Homo sapiens: one gene and its partners. The protein of the gene in region 1 purifies or fractionates together with the protein of each later gene. This does not show direct contact. Each region holds a gene or a part of one and is shown on either strand. Other genes may lie near its edges. The genes, in order: UGGT2, HELLS, CELA3A, PARN, WDR7, SERPINA4 and DNASE2B.

The links.
Region 2: the proteins of UGGT2 (region 1) and HELLS purify together in Homo sapiens (affinity purification with mass spectrometry; one large-scale study listed by BioGRID and IntAct). This does not show direct contact.
Region 3: the proteins of UGGT2 (region 1) and CELA3A purify together in Homo sapiens (co-immunoprecipitation; one large-scale study listed by IntAct). This does not show direct contact.
Region 4: the proteins of UGGT2 (region 1) and PARN purify together in Homo sapiens (affinity purification with mass spectrometry; one large-scale study listed by BioGRID and IntAct). This does not show direct contact.
Region 5: the proteins of UGGT2 (region 1) and WDR7 purify together in Homo sapiens (affinity purification with mass spectrometry; one large-scale study listed by BioGRID and IntAct). This does not show direct contact.
Region 6: the proteins of UGGT2 (region 1) and SERPINA4 purify together in Homo sapiens (co-immunoprecipitation; one large-scale study listed by IntAct). This does not show direct contact.
Region 7: the proteins of UGGT2 (region 1) and DNASE2B purify together in Homo sapiens (co-immunoprecipitation; one large-scale study listed by IntAct). This does not show direct contact.

The regions. Positions count from the first base shown.
Region 1 is NC_000013.11:96,046,902-96,050,401, reverse strand, and holds part of UGGT2 (UDP-glucose:glycoprotein glucosyltransferase 2 precursor), read left to right. Parts: intron 1-3,500. UniProt on the Homo sapiens protein: Recognizes glycoproteins with minor folding defects. Reglucosylates single N-glycans near the misfolded part of the protein, thus providing quality control for protein folding in the endoplasmic reticulum.
Region 2 is NC_000010.11:94,597,788-94,600,193, forward strand, and holds part of HELLS (lymphoid-specific helicase), read left to right. Parts: intron 1-2,406. UniProt on the Homo sapiens protein: Plays an essential role in normal development and survival. Involved in regulation of the expansion or survival of lymphoid cells. Required for de novo or maintenance DNA methylation. May control silencing of the imprinted CDKN1C gene through DNA methylation.
Region 3 is NC_000001.11:22,004,657-22,008,156, forward strand, and holds part of CELA3A (chymotrypsin-like elastase family member 3A preproprotein), read left to right. Parts: intron 1-790; coding exon 791-888; intron 889-1,005; coding exon 1,006-1,140; intron 1,141-2,221; coding exon 2,222-2,358; intron 2,359-2,716; coding exon 2,717-2,859; intron 2,860-3,500. UniProt on the Homo sapiens protein: Efficient protease with alanine specificity but only little elastolytic activity.
Region 4 is NC_000016.10:14,609,761-14,613,260, reverse strand, and holds part of PARN (poly(A)-specific ribonuclease PARN), read left to right. Parts: intron 1-2,451; coding exon 2,452-2,617; intron 2,618-3,500. UniProt on the Homo sapiens protein: 3'-exoribonuclease that has a preference for poly(A) tails of mRNAs, thereby efficiently degrading poly(A) tails.
Region 5 is NC_000018.10:56,692,859-56,696,358, forward strand, and holds part of WDR7 (WD repeat-containing protein 7), read left to right. Parts: intron 1-1,760; coding exon 1,761-1,902; intron 1,903-2,091; coding exon 2,092-2,340; intron 2,341-3,383; coding exon 3,384-3,500.
Region 6 is NC_000014.9:94,564,442-94,567,423, forward strand, and holds part of SERPINA4 (kallistatin isoform 2 precursor), read left to right. Parts: intron 1-2,528; coding exon 2,529-2,802; intron 2,803-2,982. UniProt on the Homo sapiens protein: Inhibits human amidolytic and kininogenase activities of tissue kallikrein.
Region 7 is NC_000001.11:84,408,484-84,411,983, forward strand, and holds part of DNASE2B (deoxyribonuclease-2-beta isoform 1 precursor), read left to right. Parts: coding exon 1-35; intron 36-2,354; coding exon 2,355-2,516; exon of another isoform or gene 2,517-2,527; intron 2,528-3,500. UniProt on the Homo sapiens protein: Hydrolyzes DNA under acidic conditions. Does not require divalent cations for activity. Participates in the degradation of nuclear DNA during lens cell differentiation.

The DNA of each region.
Region 1 (3,500 bases):
TGGTATTGCCTAGGTTTTCTTCTAGAGTTTTTATGGTTTTAGATCTAACATTTAAGTCTTTAGTCCATCTTGAATTAATTTTTGTATAAGGTGTAAGGAAGGGATCCAGTTTCAGCTTTCTACATATGGCTAGCCAGTTTTTCCAGCACCATTTATTAAATAGGGAATCCTTTCCCCATTTCTTGTTTTTGTCAGATTTGTCAAAGATCAGATGGTTGTAGATGTGTGGTATTATTTCTGAGGGCTCTGCTCTGTTCCATTGGTCTATATCTCTATTTTGGCACCAGTACCATGGTGTTTTGGTTACTGTAGCCTTATAGTATAGTTTGAAGTCAGGTAGCGTGATGCCTCCAGCTTTGTTCTTTTTGCTTAGGATTGTCTTGGCAATGCGAGCTCTCTTTTGTATCCATATGAACTTTAAAGTAGTTTTTTCCAATTTTGTGAAGAAAGTCATTGGTAGCTTGATGGGGATGGCATTGAATCTATAAATTACCTTGGGCAGTATGGCCGTTTTCACGATACTGATTCTTCCTATCCATGAGCATGGAATATTCTTCCATTTGTTTGTGTCCTCTTTTATTTTTTTGAGCAGTGGTTTGTAGTTCTCTTTGAAGAGGTCCTTCACATCCCTTGTAAGTTGGATTCCTAGGTATTTTATTCTCTTTGAAGCAATTGTGAATGGGAGTTCACTCATGATTTGGCCCTCTGTTTGTCTGTTATTGGCATAGAGCAATGCTTGTGATTTTTGTACATTGATTTTGTATCCTGAGACTTTGCTGAAGTTGCTTATCAGCTTAAGGAGATTTTGGGCTGAGATGATGGGGTTTTCTAAATATACAATCATATCATCTGCCAACAGGGACAATTTGACTTCCTCTTTTCCTAATTGAATACCCTTTATTTCTTTCTCCTGCCTGATTGCCCTGGCCAGAACTTCCAACACTGTGTTGAATAGGAGTGGTGAGAGAGGGCATCCTTGTCTTGTGCCAGTTTTCAAAGGGAATGCTTCCAGATTTTGCCCATTCAGTATGATATTGGCTGCAGATTTGTCATAAATAGCTCTTATTATTTTGAGATATGTCCCATCAATACCTAATTTGAGAGTTTTTAGCATGAAGGGCTGTTGAATTTTGTCAAAGGCCTTTTCTGCATCTATTAAGATAATCATGTGGTTTTTGTCTTTGGTTCTGTTTATATGATGAATTATGTTTATTGATTTGCATATGTTGAAACAGCCTTGCATCCCAGGGATGAAGCCCACTTGATCATGGTGGATAAGCTTTTTGAGATGCTGCTGGATTTGGTTTGCCAGTATTTTATTGAGGTTTTTGCATTGATGTTCATCAGGGATATTGGTCTAAAATTCTCTTTTTTTGTTGTGTCTCTGCCAGGCTTTGGTATCAGGATGATGCTGGCCTTATAAAATGAGTTAGGGAGGATTCCCTTTTTTTGTATCAATTGGAATAGTTTAAGAAAGAATGGTACCAGCTCCTCTTTGTACCTTTGGTACAATTTGGCTGTGAATCTGTCTGGTCCTGGACTTTTTTTGTTTGGTAGGCTATTATTGCCTCAATTTCAGAGCCTGTTATTGGTGTATTCAGGGATTCAACTTCTTCCTGGTTTAGTCTTGGGAGGGTGTATGTGTACAGGAATTTATCCATTTCTTCTAGATTTTCTAGTTTATTTGCGTAGAGGTGTTTATAGTATTCTCTGATGGTAGTTTGGATTTCTGTGGGATTGGTAGTGATATCCCCTTTATCATTTTTTATTGCATCTATTTGATTCTTCTCTTTTCTTCTTTATTAGTCTTGCTAGCGGTCTATCAATTTTGTTGATCTTTTCAAAAAACCAGCTCCTGAATTCATTGATATTTTTTTGAATGGTTTTCTTGTGTCTCTATCTCCTTCAGTTTTGCTCTGATCTTAGTTATTTCTTGCCTTCTGCTAGCTTTTGAATGTGGTTGCTCCTGCTTCTCTAGTTCTTTTAATTTGATGTTAGGGTGTCAATTTTAGATCTTTCCTGCTTTCTCTTGTGGACATTTAGTGCTATAAATTTCCCTCTACACACTGCTTTAAATGTGTCCCAGAGATTCTGGTATGTTGTGTCTTTGTTCTTATTGGTTTCAAAGAACAGCTTTATTTCTGCCTTCATTTTGTTATGTACCCAGTAGTCATTCAGGAGCAGGTTGTTCAGTTTTCATGTAGTTGAGTGGTTATGAGTGAATTTCTTAATCTTGAGTTCTAGTTTGATTGCTGTTGTCTGAGAGACAGTATGTTATAATTTCTCTTCTTTTACATTTGCTGAGGAGTCCTTTACTTGCAACTATGTGGTCAATTTTGGAATAAGTGCGGTGTGGTGCTGAGAAGAACGTATATTCTGTTGATTTGGGGTGGAGAGTTCTGTAGATGTCTATTAGGTCTGCTTGGTGCAGAGCTGAGTTCAATTCCTGGATATCCTTGTTAACTTTCTGTCTCGTTGATCTGTCTAATGTTGACAGTGGGGTGTTAAAGTCTCCCATTATTATTGTGTGGGAGTCTAAATCTCTTTCTAGGTCTCTAAGGACTTGCTTTATGAATCTAGTTGCTCCTGTATTGGGTGCATATGTATTTAGGATAGTTAGCTCTTCTTGTTGAATTAATCCCTTTACCATTATGTAATGGCCTTCTTTGTCTCTTCTGATCTTTGTTGGTTTAAAGTCTGTTTTATCAGAGACTAGGATTGCAACCCCTGCTTTTTTTTGTTTCCCATTTGCTTGGTAGATCTTCCTCCATCCCTTTATTTTGAGCCTATGTGTGTCTCTCTCACATAGCAAGGAGCTGCGTTCCTTTGGAGGAGAAGAGGCACTCTGATTTTTAGAATTTGCAGCTTTTCTGCTCTGGTTTCTCCCCATCTTTGTGGTTTTATCTACCTTTGGTCTTTGATGATGGTGACGTACAGATGGGATTTTGGTGTGGATGTCCTTTCTGTTTGTTAGTTTTACTTCTAACAGTCAGGACCCTCAGCTGCAGGTCTGTTGGAGTTTGCTGGAGGTCCACTCCAGACCCTGTTTGCCTGGGTATCTACAGCAGAGGCTGCAGAACAGCAAATATTGCAGAACGGCAAATGTTGCTGTCTTATTGTTCCTCTGGAAGCTTCGTCTCAGAGGGGCACCCGGCTGTATGAGGTGTCAGTCGGCCCCTACTGGGAAGTGCCTCCCCATTAGGCTACTTGGGGTTCAGGGATCCACTTGAGGAGGCAGTCTGTCTGTTCTCAGATCTCAAACTCCGTGCTGGGAGAAGCACCACTCTCTTCAAAGCTGTCAGACAGGGACATATAAGTGTGCAGAAGTTTCTGCTGCCTTTTGTTCAGTTATGCCCTGACCCCCAGAGGTGGAGTCTACAGAGGCAGGCAGGCCTCCTGGAGCTGTGGTGGGCTCCACCCAGTTCAAGCTTCCAGACTGCTTTGTTTACCTACTCAAACCTCAGCAATGGCGGGTGCCCCTCCCCCAGCCTCACTGCTGC
Region 2 (2,406 bases), on another chromosome or scaffold:
CTCCCAAAGCACTGGGATTACAGGCATGAGCCACTGCACCAAGCCTAACGTGGTGATTTTTAGTATCCCTTGAAAGTGGCTGATAAGAACCATTATTAACTTAATCATTGCAAAATGGTGATTTTTCTTGTTCTGTCATTCTTTTATTAGCTGGGTTATTTAAGAACTTTCCCTTACAGTTTCCCTGAGATAGAAGAGAGCCAGGATATATTGCTTCTTTTTTTTTTTTTTATCAGTTTTTAGAATACCACCTTATGATCTGATGCCTACAGTGATGACCATGAATTATTTTGAAAACAAAAATAATATTTTGTACTTCATAATTTCCTAATTATTTTACAACATATTACTGTCGTCTAGGCTATTGATTATTTGTCTGTTGCATCTGTATGGTGGAGATACTGTATAATCTTTTTTTCCCAACTGTATTCCGTGACATTTTGGTCTTTTGAAATTGGTGATGGCAGTAACATTCATATCACGGATACAGGCAGAAACTAGAAACCCCAGTCTTTGTTTTTAACAAAAAAGGGTCTTGCTTTGTATTCCTGGCTAGAATGCAGGAGTGCGACTATAGCTCATTGCAGCCTAAAAGTCCTGGGCTCAAGGGATCCTCCAGCCTCAGCCTTTGGAGTAAGCTGGGATTATAGGCATGAGCCATTGTGCCTCAGTTTTTGTTTTTTTTGAGACCCAATTGTTAAACATTTACCTGCGTGGCACTGGCTACAGTGTCATGATATCTTATTTTCAAATATGTTGTTCATTTTAAAATTCAATTCTGTGTCTTATTGAATCAAAATAAAATATATTGGTTGGAAGTTTTTTTTTTTTTTTTTTTAATCAGATGTATTTTCCAAACATTTTCTTCTACTCTGGCCTGTCTCTTCACTTACTTACTTAGTATCTTCTGAAGAGCAAAAGTTTTAAATTTTAATGAATTTCAATTTTAACAAATTTTTTTCTGTTCACTCATGATTTTTATGTCATCTGTAACTACTCTTTGCCTAATTCAAGGTGTTGATATTTTCTTTTAATAGTTTTATAGTTTTTGCTCTTACATTTAGATCTATGATCTATTTTCAATGAATTTTCATCTTTTTGCATGTCAATATTAATTTGTTAAAAAGATGATCCTTTTTCTATTGGATGGCCTTGTCATCCTTGATGCAAATAATTTGATCATAAATATAAGGATTTATTTCTGTATTCTCAATTCTGTCCCATTGATCTCTGTGGTATTCCTATGCCAGTATCGCACTGATTTAATTAAGGTAGCTTTATGGGAAGTGTACTTTCTCTAGTTTTGTTCTTTTTCAAAATTGTTTTAGATATTCTGGATTATTTGCATGTTTATTTGAGTTTTAACTTTGAAATAGTTTAGGGAGAAATATGAGACATACAGCATCATGGTCAAATCTAAACTATATTAAAAAACAACATTATGTGAGGCATGTAAGGACTGTTTAACATCTGATAATATAATTCATATCAATTAAATAATGGAGAACTAGATGATCACCTAATTAGATACCAAAAACCAACTTGCCATAATATCGTAATCATCTTCATAATTTTTTTTTATTTGAGACAAAGTCTCGTTCTGTCACCGAGGCTGGAGTTCAGTGGTGTGATCATGGCTCACTGCAGCTTTAACCTGCTGGGCTCAATCAATCCCCACACCTCAGCCTCCCAAGTTGCTGGGACTGCAGGTGTGATTACTATGTCCTGCTAATTTTGTTTTGTGTATTTTGTAGAGACAGGGGTTTGCCATGTTGCTCAAGCTGGTCTCACACTCCTGGGCTCAAGTGATCTGTCTGCCTCATCCTCCTAAAGTGCTGGCATTATCGAAACTGCTTTTATTTGCAAGTGGTCTGGTTTGATTATCTTCATAGGAAGTCCAAGGGAATCCAGAATCTTTTAAAATAGAATTTAAGAAGATTGCTTATTAATAATATGTGTAACAGCAATAATTGTTTAATAATGAAGGTTTTTACAACAGCTACAAAATTAACATGCCTACAATTAAAGTTTAACAATTTTTAACATGTTTATATAAGGACAGAATTATGAAACATTGAAGGACGTTAATAGAAAGACTGAGTAAACATGCAGATTTAGCTGTATTTGTGGATATGAATGGTTACTACAAAGTGTAAGTCAGTGGTCCCCAAAACTAACTTATATTCTTGAATTTTTCTTCTAATTAAAATCCCAGAATGATGGCTGGGTGTGGTGGCTCATGCCTATAATCCTATCACTTTGGGAGGCTGAGGCAGGTGGATTGCCTGAGCTCAGGAGTTAGAGACCAGCCTGGGCAACACGGTGAAACCCTGTCTCTACTAAAATAGAAAAAATTAGCGGGGCATGGAGGCATGTGCCTATAATCCCAGCTACTCAGAAGGCTGA
Region 3 (3,500 bases), on another chromosome or scaffold:
GTGCCCCACTGTCCACAGTTTGCTAACCCTGGTCTAGATGGAGCTTTTGAAAATCAGAATGTGTAGGAAATGGGAAGAGAGGCAAAGAACTCATCAGGGTGAGCTGTGCTTCAGAAGGCTCAAGAGGCCTTGAAAGAGCTGAGGTTCAAAAGAGTCAGGGGGGCTGGGCGCGGTGGCTCACGCCTGTAATCCCAGCACTTCGGGAGGCCGAGGTGGGCAGATCACCTGAGGTGAGGAGCTCGAGACCAGCCTGGCCAACATGGTGAAACTCCGTGTCTACTAAAAATACAAAATTAGCCAGGCACGACGGCAGGTGCCTGTAATCCCGGTTACTGTGGAGGCTGAGACAGGAGAATCGCTTGAACCCGGGAGGCGGAGGTTGAAATGAGCTGAGATTGCCACCATTGCACTCCAGCCTGGGGAACAAGAGCAAAACTCCATCTCAAAAAAAAAAAAAACTCACAGGGCGAGGGGTGCGTGATAGAACAGAGGGCCTTCAAGGGCTGTTAAGAGACAGAAGGTAGAGAATGTTGGGGTCCCCAGGGAGGTCATAGTGCTGGTGTGGGGAGGCTTTGGAGAATCAGAATGTGACCCCCATGGAAAAGTGATAGGGCCACCACGGGCAGCTGCCCAGGTCGCAGGTTGTATGCTGCATATTTCAGTGGGTGCTCTCGTTTTCCATGTGAATGGCGCCCTCTAGAGTTGCACAGTGCACAACCTATACAGCCATTGGTGGCAACTCTCATGGTGGGGCCCAGCCCACTGAGGCCCTTTCCTCCTGGGCCACCAGGTTTCCCTGCAGTATGAGAAAAGTGGAAGCTTCTACCACACGTGTGGCGGTAGCCTCATCGCCCCCGATTGGGTTGTGACTGCCGGCCACTGCATCTCGTGAGTTCTCTACCCTGTCCCTGCCTGTGGCCCTGGGCAGCGGGGGAGAGTGGGTGATGATGGGGAAGGAGGGAGGTGAGCCAGTCAGGCCCCGACTGACCTCACCTCTGCCTGCAGGAGGGATCTGACCTACCAGGTGGTGTTGGGTGAGTACAACCTTGCTGTGAAGGAGGGCCCCGAGCAGGTGATCCCCATCAACTCTGAGGAGCTGTTTGTGCATCCACTCTGGAACCGCTCGTGTGTGGCCTGTGGGTGAGTGAATGCTCCGGTCTGGAACCCAGGGGCTCCTCTACTTGTCCCTCCATGACCCACAGCCAAGTCTGAGTAGGCTCCAACTCTGAGTAGGGACGTAGGGACATAGGGACATAGGGACAGGGGAGCTGAGTCCAGCAGCCTGTGCCCAGGTCCCACACACTGAGGATTGAAGCCAGCAGAGCCTTTAAGGACCATCACCACCAAACCTGTCTCCCTACAGAGGGGATGGCAGTGTTCAGGGAGGGGCAGGAACTCTGCCAAGGCCACTTGGCTAGTGGCTTCAGAGCTCAGGGTTCCTCTGGCATCCTTCCCCCATATCCGAGGGTTTCTCCATTCAATAGATGGCTCACCCAGTGCATCCTGGGCTCCCAGCACTATGGGCAAAAGGAGGAGCACTGGGCTGAGAGTCAGGCTCTGGCATTAACTCTGTGTATGGCCTGAGCAAGTCACTGGCCTTCTCTGGGCCTTAGTTTTGCCATTTGTCAAAAGGTGACCATGAAGTTGGGCTTCCTGGGTGGTGTGAAGGCCAAGGAGACAATCTTATGCCTTTCAAGTGTATGAAAAAATCTTAACAAATATTAGCCAGGCGTGGTGGCATGAGCCTGTAATCCCAGCTACTGGAAAGGCTGAGGCAGGAGAATCACTTGAACTCGGGAGGCGGAGGCTGCAGTGAGCCAAGATCATGCCACTGCACTCCAGCCTGGGCAACAGAGCGAGACTCTGACTCAAAAATAAATAAATGAATAAATAAAATTCCTCAGCCTTAAGAACGATTTGGGCCAGGTATAGTGGCTCATGCCTGTAATTCCAGCACTTCAGGAGGTGAAAGCAGGAGGATCCCTTGGCCCAGGAGGCTGCAGTGAGCTATGATTGTGACACTGCACTCCAGCCTGGGCAACAGACCGAGACTCTGTCTCAATAATAATAATAATAATAATAATAATGATGATGAAAGAGTGGATTTGGAGGGTAAAGAAGTTGGGGCATCTCAGAGGTGGAATAGCCTGGAGCAACGGCTAGAAGGTAGGACTTGGGCCGGCTGGAGGACCAGGCCCCGTGACTGTTCCCTCCTCCCCAGCAATGACATCGCCCTCATCAAGCTCTCACGCAGCGCCCAGCTGGGAGATGCCGTCCAGCTCGCCTCACTCCCTCCCGCTGGTGACATCCTTCCCAACAAGACACCCTGCTACATCACCGGCTGGGGCCGTCTCTATAGTACGTGCTGACTTCTCTAGCTGGCCACAGAGACAGTGGCAGAAAGACAGGGCCTGGGGGCTGCAGGTTGAAGGTAACACCAAGACCGGACCTTGTACTTTTCTCCCATTTCTCTCCAGCTGCAGCCTTCTTCCATCAACCTCCAAAACACGAATGTGGTCAATTGCACATGTTTTGGTATCTTCTGTGTGCCACGTGCTAGGGATGTAATGGTGCACAAAGCATGCAGGACCATTTAGCGGGTGGGAGGAGAGTCCTCATCAGGGCAGAAGAACTGTGGGCCTTGAATGCCCCCTTCCTCTGGGGCACCTAGCGGTGTGCCCCCAGACCCCTGACTCGGTGCTTTTTATCCTTGCAGCCAATGGGCCACTCCCAGACAAGCTGCAGCAGGCCCGGCTGCCCGTGGTGGACTATAAGCACTGCTCCAGGTGGAACTGGTGGGGTTCCACCGTGAAGAAAACCATGGTGTGTGCTGGAGGGTACATCCGCTCCGGCTGCAACGTGAGTCAGCTCTTACCTGCCCGAGGTGGTGCTGGGTGTGCAGGACCTTGGAATGGGGCCAACTGCCTGGAAGGTGGAGGAAGGATCTTGCCTGCTTGCCCCATTCAGCCTCCAGGCCAGGCAGGACTTGGAGGAAATCAGCGCAGTCCAGACACAGAGCCCAGGCCTGGGAGTCAGGACCCCCGGGTTGCAGTCTCAGCTCACACACTGACATGACTTGGGACAAGTCACTGTGTCTCCCTGGTCCTCAGGCTTCCGCATCAGCACAGCAGGAGATACTGGTCCCATGACCTCTAACGCAGGTCAATTCTGTGGTTCTAAAGTTATAATTAACCATTAAGAATACCATCATTGTTCTGGGCACAGTCCCTCCTGCCTATAATCCAAGTGCTTTGGGAGGCTGAGGTGGGAGGATTGCTTGAGGCTAGGAGTTTGAGACCAGCCTAGGTAATATAGTGAGATGCCCATCTACAGAAAAACTTTTTTTACTTAGTCAGGCATGGTGGCACTCGCCTGTAGTCCCAACTACTTGATAGGCTGAGGTGGGAGGATTGTTTGAGCCTGGGAGTTCAAGCTCACAGTGGCTATGATTTTTGCCACTGCACCCAAGCCTGGCGACACAGCAAGACGTTGTCTCTTTT
Region 4 (3,500 bases), on another chromosome or scaffold:
CTTGACTCACCGCAACCTCTGCCTCCCAGGTTCAAGCGATTCTCCTGCCTCAGCCTCCAGAGTAGCTGGGATTACAGGCATGTGCCACCACGCCCGGCTAATTTTGTATTTTTAGTAGAGACAGGGTTTCTCCATGTTGGTCAGGCTGGTCTTGAACTCACGACCTCAGGTGATCTGCCCGCCTTGGCCTCCCAAAGTTCTGGGATTACAGGCGTGAGCCACCGCGCCCCGTCCCCATGGATTTTAATACCACCCGTGTCCCAATGATAACTAAATGTATATCTCAACACCTTTCTCTTGAGCTATAGGCTTGTAACTGCAGCTTTTAATTTGTGTATTCCCTTAGATGATTTAACATGTCCGTGGTAGGGCGCGGTGGCTCACGCCTGTAATCTCAGCACTTTTAGAGGCTGAGATGGGCAGATGACCTGAGGTCAGGAGTTCAAGATCAGCCTGGCCAACATGTTGAAACCTTGTCTCTACTAAAATACAAAAATTAGCTGGGTATGGTGGCGGGCGCCTGTAATCCCAGCAACTTGGGAGGCTGAGGCGGGAGAATTGCCTGAACCCGAGAGGTGGCGGTTGCAGTGAGCCGAGATCGTGCCATTGCACTCCAGCCTGGGTGACAGAGCAAGACTTCGTTCTAAAAAGAAAAAAAAGAAAAAAAAATAGTATGTCCAAAAGGTAGCTTTTGATTTTCACTCCTTGGACCCCGATACCTATTTTTCCCCTCATTGTCTTCACATCAGTTAGTGGCCCTACCATCTTCCCAATCGCTTGAACCAAATAGCAAGGTGTTTTTTTTATTTTTATTTTTATTTTTTTTTGAGACAGTGTCACACCGTCGCCAGGCTGAAGTGCGGTGGCACGATCTCGGCTCACTGTAACCTCTGCCTCCTGTGTTCAAGTGATTCTCCTGCCTTAGCCTCCCAAGTAGCTGGGACTACAGGCACACACCACCATGCCCAGCTAATTTTTGTATTTTTAGTAGAGACGGGGTTTCACCATGTTGGCCAGGCTGGTCTCCATCTTTTGAACTTGTGATCCGCCCGCCTCGGCCTCTCAAAGTGGTTGGATTATAGGCGTGAGCCACCATGCCCGGCCGCAAGGTGTTACTCTTGATTTTGCCTTTCCCTTTATCCTTCATCTCCAGGATATCAGTAAGTGTTACGTCTTATGTCTAGAAAATCACTGTCTCCTTCTACCCTGCCATCTCTACACCAGGGTTACAAACAAGAGCCCACTGCTGGCTCCTTGTTTTGTAAATAAGATTTGTTGGACTACAGCTATGCCCGTACATGTACATTTTGTGTATGGCTGCTTTTGTGCCACAACAGCAGGGTTGAGTATTGCGACAGAGACCCCCATTGCCCACAAGCCTAAAACATTTGCCATCGAGCCCTTTAAGAAAGAGTTTGCTGGCCGTGCGCGGTGGCCGTGGCTCCCGCCTGTAATCCCAGCACTTTGGAAGGCTGAGGCAGGCGGTGAGGTCTGGAGTTCGAAACCAGCCTGGCCAACATAGCGAAACCCTGTCTCTACCGAAAATACAAAAATTAGCCTGGTGTGATGGTGCACGCTTGTAATTCCAGCTACTCGGGAGGCTGAGACAGAAGAATTGCTTGAACCTGGGAGGCAGAGGTTGCAGTGAGCTCATATTGTGCCATTGCATGCCAGCCTGGGTGACAGAGTAAGACTGTCTCACAACAAAACAAAACAAAGAAAAAGTTTGCTGACCTCTGATCTGAGCTCTTGTCTCTTGCCTGGACAATTGCTCCTGACTTGTTTCCTAACTTCACTCTCAGAGTAGTCATCATGGCCTTTGAAACATTATGCAGGTAAGGTAATTATCTTGCTTAAAATCTTCTAATGTTGTCCAGCCACTGTTAGAATAATGTACATTTCTTACACTGGCCTGTGAGGGCCTGCAGAATCTTGCTCCATACTCTCTCCAATGTGATGCTGTACCATTCCATTTTTGCTCATGACATCTGGCCACACCAGCTCCTTGCTGCTCCTGGAACCGTCCAAGCCATTTCCATGTTCTGGGTATTAATACTTGTTTCCCCTACCCGAAGGACTCTTCCCCTAGCTCCTTTCGTATCCGACTTATTCTCATCCTTTGGGTTTTCCCTGACTTTCCTGATTTTCTTGTCAGAAGTAGTTCCCTTCACTACAGAGCAGGATGCATCAGCTTGTCACTGTTCATTCCCCAGTGCCTAATATAATGCTTTGGCACAGCATAAGTGCCAGATAAATATTTCTTGAAAGAAGACTGAATGAATGGATGAATGATAAACACATTTCAAAATCATTTGCCTTTCTGTTCATTTTTTGAGATGTAGTTAAATATGGTAAATCTTTCCTGAGTAATTTAGACTCTTTGGTTTGTTAAACAAATTTTATGTTAGACAGTTACTTCTGCTAATGCATTCTTTTTAAAATCGTGTTTAGGAATTCCATATTTAAATCAGGAAGAAGAAAGACAGTTAAGAGAGCAGTATGATGAAAAACGTTCACAGGCGAATGGTGCAGGAGCTCTGTCCTATGTATCTCCTAACACTTCAAAATGTCCTGTCACGATTCCTGAGGATCAAAAGAAGTTTATTGACCAAGTGGTGTAAGTTCCTAAATTAAAACTAAGCGTGCATTGTGTGCTATATATTGGGGATGACAGGCATCTATATCTCAAACCTGTGCTTTACAAACATAGTACACACACGGGTGTGATGTTGTGAATGGCAGGATATAATTGTGGCATATTAAAAAAAAAATTTTTTTTTTTTTTTTTTTGAGACAGTCTTGCTCTTTTGCCCAGGCTGGAGTGCATTGGTGCAATCCTGGCTTACTGCAACCTCTGCCTCCTAGGTTCAAGCAATTCTTGTGCCTCAGCCTCCAGAGTAGCTGGGATTATAGGCGTGCACCACCACACCCGCCTAATTTTTATATTTTTAGTAGAGACGAGGTTTTGCCATGTTGGCCACGCTGGTCTCGAACTCCTGGCCTCAAGTGATCTGCCCGCCTCAGCCTCTCAAAGTGTTGAGATTACAGGCATGAGCCAGCATGCCTAGCCGGCATATTCAAATTAGTGTAACAGCAACAAATTGTAAATAGAGTTCCATGTATTGTACTTGGACTTGCTACATGTCACTAGGCAAGAGATTTCAGTACGTGGTCAGACCTGCGTGGATTTTTTATTTTATTTTATTTTTTTTAATAGAGACGGATCTCACTATGTTTCCCAGGCTGGTGTCAAACTCCTGAGCTCAAGGGATCTTCCTGCCTCAGCCTCCCAGAGCGCTGGGATTACAGGCGTGAGCCATTGTCCAGCCCCTTTTCTTGTTTTTTAAATGCTAATCAGCTGACTTCTAAAACTTGCATGGACTGAATACCTGACAGCCACTGTCCAATGTCCTTGAAGGCAGAGGAGTGGATCAGGCTTATCCAGCCTGTAGCATGTCCATGTTCTCTTTGCTTGCAGTAAAGGTGCCGACAAGCAGATG
Region 5 (3,500 bases), on another chromosome or scaffold:
CAATTAAAAATTTTAGTCTGGGCGACATAGTGAGACCCCATCTCTACAAAAAAAAAAATTAGCATGGTGTGGTGGTACACGCCTGTAGTCCCAGCTACTTGGGAGGCTGAAGTGGGAAGATCCTTTGAGCTGGGAGGTGGAGGCTGCAGTGAGCTGTGATCGTGCCACTGCACTCCAGCCTGGGCAACATGGCGAGACCCTGTCTCAAAAGCAAAAAAAATTCAGTAAGTAAAGTCAAACGATTGGTTATGCTTAATATGTGTAGTTTCCATTGGCTAATGCTTTTAGCTGTTAATTACTGTATTTGATTAACCAGTATTTGAATACAGTAATTAGACTATTAACTATAATTGTCAAAACTGAAGTCAAATTTAATATTGCTTTTCAGGCTAAGATTCTGTTCTTTAATATTCCAGTATTTGTGAAGTAATCCTCCGAATTTTAGTAGAAGTCCACCACACTATTTAGTATTTTCAGATAGTACTTCATTGAAGGCACAAAATCTTGAGCTGAAAATGAAAGTACACATAAGATCCTAATGAATGGTTTTTGTTCCTGGTAGCTGGTAGCTAACAGAGGCTAGGTTCAAATTGATTATGAAAATATGAGCAAGTAAAACATGATATGCTATTAGTTGAAAAATATACTAATTTTAACAATGGGGTCCTCTAGTTGCACAAGCTTGATAGTTCAATTTTGTTGGTTTTTTTTTTTGTTTTTTTTTTTTTTTTGAGATGGAGTCGCCCTTTGACTCCCAGGCTGGAGTGCAGTGGTGTGATCTCGGCTCACTGCAACCTTTGCTTCCTGGGTTCAAGCGATTCTCCTGCCTCAGCCTCCCGAGTAGCTGGGATTACAGGCACGCACCACCACACCTGGCTAATTTTTGTATTTTTATTAGAGACAGGGTTTCACCATGTTGGCCAGGCTGGTCTTGAACTTTTGGCCTCAAGTGATCTGCCCGCTGCAGCCTCCCAAAGTGCTGGCATTACAGGCATGAGCCACTGTGGCCAGCCTACTTTTTGTTTTTTTGAGGCAAGGTCTTGCTGTGTCATCCAGGCTGGAGTGCAGTAGCGAAATGATAGTTCACTGTAGCTTCAAACTCCTGGACTCAAGTGATGCTCCCACCACAGCCTCCTGAATACCTGGAGCTATGAGCCTGTGCCACCATGCTGGGCTAAGTTTTTTTTTTTTTCCTGTAGAGACAGGATTTCGCTTAGTTGTCCAGGGCCGGTCTCTGACTCCTGGCCTCAAGCGATCTTCCGTGTCATTGTTGGGATTACAAGCATGAGCCACTGTTCCCTAATTTTGTTGCTATTCTTAATGATTAATCAGGAGTGGGCAAAAAAAGCAGGAATAGTGAGTTCTCTCATCTTGACCTTTTAAGTGAAGACTTTTCTTTTTGATAAAGCTTAGCTATGTGTTAATTATTTAATAATAGGCAGTTAAATTGCATTATTGTGGCTACACATGAGTTATTATAAAGTGGTGAAAAGTAGCATAAATGCTAACTTTAGAGAAAGGCTGTAAATACAGTTTTTGTTTCATTCAATGTGTGTGTTATACTAGATTAGAATATTAGTTGACATGTATGTTAGTGCTATAGAATTACATTAAAATATTGTTGAATAATCATGCTATAAACACTTTTTCAACTTGGCTACTGGGACAAATTACCTAATATCTTTGTTTGAAAAGCATTAATGTGTGAAATATTTTGATTAAAAATACAGCTAAAGATATTCAAATACTTTTTTTGGCAGTTGCTAATTTGTCCTCCTGTTACTCGGTTCTTCTATGGATGCAGAGAATATTTCCATAAACTGTTAATTCAGGGTGATTCTTCTGGAAGGTTGAATATTTGGAACATATCAGACACAGCTGATAAACAGGGAAGTGAAGAAGGTAATAGTAAATCATGTGTAACAATTTCTTAATTAATTTAATATCTTAAATACCAACTACTGAATAACATTCATAATGTACATATATCATTTTCTTTGATTACTGGATCAATCAACATTATTTTAATGTTTTAAATTTTTTTTAACATGCACAAATGTTTTTCTTTTATACAAAACCAAACCTCTACAGGGCTGGCAATGACAACTTCTATTAGTTTGCAAGAGGCATTTGATAAACTGAATCCTTGTCCTGCTGGAATTATAGATCAGCTGAGTGTGATTCCCAATAGTAATGAACCTCTTAAAGTAACTGCAAGTGTGTACATACCAGCACATGGACGACTTGTTTGTGGTCGTGAAGATGGAAGCATAGTTATTGTACCTGCCACACAGACGGCCATAGTACAGCTGTTGCAAGGGGAACACATGCTCAGAAGAGGTATACTGAAGAGCTCCGTATGTCTAAAGTGTTTTGACAACTCTTACCCAGAGAGTGAAAATGTCTCTGTTTTTTGTTTTTAAATAAATACAGTGAATCAGTGTAGTTAGTTGTTGGGGTGCTATGTAGTTGGTAGAGTTTAATGCACAGATAAAATATTCAGTGCCTGTTATTAGAATTAATACAATGTAATGACTGTAAATAAAGAAGTATCCAATTTTATCTCTTTGAGATATGTTAATAGTTTCATCTCTTAGTTATCTCTATGGATTACTAAATAATTACTGTATTACCAGTAATTCTGAAAATCCTCCAGAACAGTACCATCCAATAGAAATCTTTTTTTTTTTTTTTTCCGAGAAAGAGTCTCACTGTGTTGCTCAGACTAGAGTGCAGTGGCATGATCTCGGCTCACTACAATCTCTGCCTCCTGAGTTCAAGCAGTTCTCCTGCACAGCCCCCCAAGTAGCTGGGATTATAGGCATGTGCCACCACACCCAGCTAATTTTTGTATTTTTTGTAGGGACAGTTTCACCATGTTGGCCAGGCTGGTCTCGAACTCCTGACCTCAAGTGATCTGCCTGCCTCGGCCTCTCAACAGCCAGTGGAAATCGAATGTCAACCATATATATATAACCATACCTGTAATTTCCTAATAGCTGTGTTAAAAAATAAAATGAAACAGTTGAAATTGACTATATTTTATATAACCCAATATAGCAAAAACTATTTTCATTTCAACTTCTAATCAATATGAAGATTGTTGATGAAATATTTTAGGTTTTTTGTATCAACTCTTCAAAATCTCATGACTAGTTTAAATTCACAGCACATAGGAATCTGGATTACCCCCATTTCAAGTGCTCAGTAGTCTCATGTGGCTAGTAGATACTGAATTAGGCAGAGTTGTGTTAGAAGATAAAATTGGAAGCCTTTGCTGTGATATAATTTGTAGCTATTCTAAACATTCATGTTTACTTTTACTTACTGAAACTTGGTAAACCTTTAATTTTCCCATTTTAAATCCAAACCCTCATTCACAGGTTGGCCACCTCACAGAACACTCCGTGGTCATCGGAACAAAGTCACATGTTTGCTATATCCTCATCAGGTCTCAGCTCGGTATGATCAAAGATACCTGATATCTGGAGGTGTGGATT
Region 6 (2,982 bases), on another chromosome or scaffold:
ACAGGTCAGCTTGTTTGCTCAAAGCAGGGATAAGACAAGTCTCTAATTCAAAGGTTGGCTTTGAGGATCAAATGATTAACCCATGTATATACTCCTTAGAAAAGGGTCTAAAGAGATGGGCAAACTACAGCCCATGGGCCAAATGTGTTCAGCCACTGGTTTTGTAAATAAAGTTTTATTGGCACACAGCCAGGCCCATTCATTTATGTATTGTCTGTGGCTGACTTCATGCTACAATGGCAGGTTGATTCATTACTGCAGAGATTGAATGATCTGCAATGCCTAAAATAGTTAATATCTCTATAAACCTTTTGGTTTGTTGACCCCTGACCATTTTATGTACTCAATAAATAGCAACTATAATTCATCTAATGATAACAATGCTCATTTTGAAGCTTTAAAAATATGTAAAAGCATAAAGGAGAAAGTAGACATAATCTCTAGTCCTACCACTCAGAGGCAACAAATGTTAATGTTTTAGCATCTTTTCTTCACCTTCCATTCACACACATATATGTCCACACAGTTGATTTTGCAGTGTGCAAACAACTTTGTACGGTGTGTATTAGCCAGGGTTTCATCAGAGAAGGAGAGCCACCTCAAGTCAATGGTAAGGAGATCATTATAGGAATTAGGCCCCACACAATTGCGACTGGGAAAGTGAAGGTCTAGAGGAAAGAAGAGTTGGAAGGACAGAGAGAAAGTTGCCAATGTAAGCGGACAAGTCAGAGCTTAGAGGGGAATCTATATGCCAGGCTCAACCAGCCATCAGAGTGCTGCCATGGAGGGGAGCATCACTGCATAGTTTCTGTGGTAGCCTGGGGCTGCTGTTGTTTAGTGGGGTTAGACTTGGGAAATGAGCTTGGAGACAAGCAGGGCAAACTGGAGCACACAGAGCACTGCTGAGTCTGACCATCATCATATCTGACTACCAGGGCCTTCAGAGGGCAATCTACTTCGAAATCTCACAGTTCTAACCAGCTTGAACCCAAAATCTACAGGGAACAAAATTCTAGGGAGCAACTCCCAGCCTAATGATTCAGCCAAATTAGTCATCCCATGTAATTTGCATGTGGAATTTTCATGAACCATTGAAAAGTTTTTTTAAAAAAGCTTTGTTTTGAGGCTGGGCATAGTGGCTCACACCTGTAATTCCAGCACTTTGGGAGGCCAAGGCAGGTGGATATTGAAATCAGAAGTTCAAGACCAGCCCGGCCAACATGGCAAAACCCTGTCTCTACTAAAAATACAAAAAAAAAAAAAAAAATTAGCCAGGCTTCATGGCACATGCCTGTAATCCCAGCCACTTGGGAGGCTGAGGCAGGAGAATCGCTTGAACCCAGGAAGTGGAGGTTGCTGAGATTTTGCCACCACACTCTGGTCTGGGTGACAGAATGAGACTCTATCTCCAAAAAAAAGTTTTGCTTTGAAATAACAAAACTTTTAAACTTTAAAAAAAAAATTAACTAAGGAAGGAAGAGAAACAGTAGTATGGGTTTCACTGTCAGGAAGACATTGGTTAGAATCCCAGATCCCTTGCTATTCCCTGGACTAAAATTCCTGGCATGGAGGCCTTAGTCCATTCACCCTACCTGCCACCACCTCACTGCACATCGCCTCCTGTATTTGCTTCCCTCCTCACACTGCAGCGATTCCATGGCCATCATTGTGGTCACTTCCTTGCAAACACTCTGAACTCTTAACTTCCTTGGTTTTCCCTCCCTCTATCATACTTACCCTCCAAAGCTGCAAACCTGCTTAAACCTAAAGGTCTAACTAGTCTACATCTGCACCCAGCAGCTGAATGTGGTTGAAGAAAAACATCCAACGGGGCTGATGGTCTCACTTGATATTTGTGAATGCAAATTTTCATTGATATCTCTACACTGTCCAGCAATCCTACCTACATATCTCCACTCTCCAAAACAACTATAATAACAGATTCGTCCTTCTCAAATGTCCTCCCCACTCATGACTTTCACTTAACAATCTTGTCTCACTTTTCATTGAGAAAACAGAATCAGTTAAACAGGAAATCTCTCATCTTCTCACCTCCAAATCTACTCACCTCCAAATCTTCTCACCTCCAAATCTACTCGCCTCCCTGCATTTGAACCCACAAGCTCAGATGCCCTCCTCTCATCATGGCAGTAGTGACCCACCTCTTATGGAAGGCTGACCCCTCTGCTCACACTCTGCCATCTCCTCTCTCCTTCTCAAGGATGCTCACCTAACAATGAAACTCTCTTTCCAGCACCCCTTGTTTCTTCTCTATCAATCCTACTCACATATTAGAAAACGAACATCCTCTGCTATCTCTCATTTTAAAATTTAAATGAGGCCTAAAGGATCCATTCCCCAGGCATGTCAGGTTTTGAATGGTCAAAATGGGACATCTTGATGGGCTCATAGGGCAGGATCTGGAGCGACTGTTTCTGTAGCTCAGAACACCAGATGGCATTCCCTGGCTGGAGGACTAGCTCTGTGGCCTGCAGATGTCCTGTACCTTCTTTTCATCTTCCCTTCAGCCCTGTGGGAGAAACCATTCATTTCCTCAAGGACCACTCCCAAAGACTTCTATGTTGATGAGAACACAACAGTCCGGGTGCCCATGATGCTGCAGGACCAGGAGCATCACTGGTATCTTCATGACAGATACTTGCCCTGCTCGGTGCTACGGATGGATTACAAAGGAGACGCAACCGTGTTTTTCATTCTCCCTAACCAAGGCAAAATGAGGGAGATTGAAGAGGTTCTGACTCCAGAGATGCTAATGAGGTGGAACAACTTGTTGCGGAAGAGGTAATCAGTGTGCTATGGGGGCTGAATCTACAGTACTATCCATCAAATGTAACTTTCTAATGAAAGACAGTGCCCCAAAATAGAGAGTGAACACCAAATTATGAGAGAATTCTCACTTGCTCTGAGAACTTCCATGGGCTTCCTTTAAATGATGAACTCTCCTGTTATATTTAAAATATG
Region 7 (3,500 bases), on another chromosome or scaffold:
TGTGAATTACAGCAGAAAGTATGGACACACCAAAGGTATGACAAAGATTCTTGGTTTCTCTTTCCTACTGGAAATCAACAATTTCTTAAATATTTCATCTTGAGTATCCTTATATTCCATACTAAATAGATAGCCTTTCTTCTTAATAGTTTATTTGAGTTATTGAAATGTATGACTTCTATATCACTGGTTATAATATAATTATATGATTTGACTTGGCAATCTCATTTTTAGAAATCCCATTTTATTTCTTAACATATTTTAAAATATTTGCTTTGCAGCAGCAGGAATCCAGGTACTGATACTGAGGACACACACACACACCAGCAATTTTATATATATATATATATATATGCACATGAATATGTATATATGTATATGTGCATGTAGTATATATGTACAAACACATTTTAGTCAGATTTATTGAAGTATGATTTATAGAGAGTAAAACGAGCTCTTCTTAACATACAGTTCCCTTGGAAATATACATTTTTGAAAAAGTATTTTAAATAGCTTTTTATATTAATTTTTATCATGTTATTTACATTATCACATATAATTTTTATTATCCTTTCACAATTTTTTTATTTCTAAACTTTGCATATGTGTTTGTGAACTACAGAAAAATTCAAAATACAGGTAAACAAAAAAATCTATAATCCTAATGCCCATTAGATAAACCATATTTAATCCTTTCTACTTTTTCTAAAATACATATTTTAAAACATTTTTACAAAACTACTGTAATGACTATTTTTCAACCTTTTTTCAATTTCATATATCATAAATAACTTTCCATGGCAACAAGTATTCAGAAGATTCCAAATTCAAATGCCTTCAAGGGAGCAGGCAAATGATGTCAGCAAGTGAAAGGAGGCAGTTACTATTCAACTTGCCTGATACGGACACAATTTTCCAGGAGATGTTGAAAATTAATATTTGTGGAAAAACTCCCCAGTTTTTAAATGTTGGCACTAAATTCAAAGTTTAAAAAATACTCTGCAAGCGCAATAAAATGTATCCACAGGCTGGATTTGGCTCAGAGGATGTCAGTTTGCAGCCTCTGATTTAGAATATAGTTTGTAATGGCTGACAAAGGTCATGAACTTTGAAAGCTTTTTATTTAGCAAAGTTGCTCTCCTGAATACCCTATTTACTGGGAACCCAACAATTTTCATAACATGCTACATTCTTCAACCTCTCCTCCAACAATCTCCCACACTATTCCTGCTCTACCCTGCTAACTGCCACAAGGCTTTGGGGAAATGGCTCTAAAGAAGTAGGGCACAATATCAAGTGGAGGGGTTCTCTTGGCCAACAGATGCCCTAATATCCTATGGCATTTGTACCAGGAGGATAGGATTCCAGCAAATTGGCACACTCATCTGCACAGAGGATAACTCTTGAAGGTTATCCAGTTCTGTTACACACAGAACTTTCAATATTTTCCACCTTGACACAGGTATTGATTCTATTTCCACCCAAAGAACAACAGTATGCTTTCTTAAAATAGGCACTTTGAAAAAAAAATAACTAGAAGGCATTTGGTTTTTAATCTAACACTTAGGCAAACACGAGTGAATCTTATGTTTGCATAGTCATATGCAAACTGGAAAGTCTAGCTATCATACCAAACCTACCATGATAAATTTCTAAACACAAAAATAGTCAGATGTCTGTTTTACAAAGTTCTTTTTGGTATGTCACAAAATGATAAAAATCTTTCTATTTTCTTCCTTATTGGCTTTCAAGTTGTTTATTTTGCTCTAGAGATTTTTACAAACGTAATTAACTAGGATGCTTTAGCACAGCTTCCTTTTTGTCTCTTTGCTTCTTTTATTGGGCTTGTAGAAATAGTGACTCTTCTGCCAATAAATGGGCAGCAGTTTTTTATAACAAATTATTGTGAGTACATTTCTTCATTTGATATTTTCTCTTTCAACTCTGTTTTTTAGTCAGCTTTTGAAAAGAGCCTAGCTGCTTAGCAGTGAAGACACTATCTAAATCTTGCTAGGTGACTGTATAGTTTAACAAGGTCCAATTCCAATTTAGCAAATTTGCATTCTGCCAAAACAAATTTTCCTTGTGATTTCAAAATGAAATTCCTCTTAACTCTTCACAGGATGGCTACCTTGGTTCCCTTTTCGTGGTGGCTTTTTATCAGTAATCAGGCAATGTGATATGTGCCAGAATTGTATTTGAAATCTTTGAAAAATAAGCATGATCCTTGTGATTATTAGCCTAATAAAACACTAGTCTGAAGCATAAATGGGCTTAAATGTTGCCACTGTGAACCCTATTATAAAAGAAGCTTTGTTTTTCTGATTTATCTTTGTTAAATGTGTCTTTGGTAGGTTTACTGCTGTGGAACAGAGTTCAAGGGTTCTGGCTGATTCATTCCATCCCTCAGTTTCCTCCAATTCCGGAAGAAGGCTATGATTATCCACCCACAGGGAGACGAAATGGACAAAGTGGCATCTGCATAACTTTCAAGTACAACCAGTATGAGGCAATAGGTAAAACTAAAGTATGTGAGAAAAAAAACGATAACTATGTTGAAGAAATGATTTGGAAATATATTCATAAATGTGTCACTTCATTTGTTAATCTATTCATAGACCCTCTGATACCTAGATTCTAATACTGGCTTTGCCATGGTGAGGTCTTGGGCAGGCTCGCTTACTGGGCTTTGGCTCTTAATCTACCAGTGCAGTTGTTGAACTTGATCAGGGCAGTAGTTTCAAATGTATTCAGGGGCCTGGTAGATAACATATATGAGTGAAACAGACATGTTACATGGGAAGTGAGGATAGTGATGAACTGGGGTGTTGACTCACCTAGCTTCCCTTAAAGCCTCAGTTCCATCATACTGTGGCTCTACAGGAATACAAGCCTAATGATTACAGATCTCCTTATTTCTCATGAAGTACCAGAAACCTAGGGTGTGTGTGTGTGTGTGTGTGTGTGTGTGTGTGTGTGTGTGTGTGTGTGTGTGTGTGTCAGAGAGAGAGAGAGAGAGAGAGAAACTGATTTCCAAATATGAGTTCAATCTTAATTTTGTTTTTGAAGTTTTCCAGGCCACATGTTCCTTGTAGGCCACAAACATGACACCTCTGAGCCAGATAATCTCCTTTTAAGATTTCAAGCTCAGCGAAAAATTCTTAGATTTGGCAAACTGTGGTGGGAAAGGAGAAGTAGGGACAGGTTGGTAGCTAAATAGTAGTGAAAAGCAACTTGCCTATAGAAACAGGAGATTTAGAAAATGTTTCTCATCAAATTTCCATCTTATGGCAAGGATCACTGAGCTCCTCACCCAAGTCAAGCTCTAGTCTCACTAGTTGAAATCATGTAATGATGCCGAATATCACAGAGATTAGGCATGCACACTGAGGAGATGATGATTCTTAAAGCTTTTTGGTACATGGAGTTCTCAACTTTTGTATATGTATATGTACATTTAGAAGAAAAAATATATGGTCTCCAAGGCCAAATTACCTGGG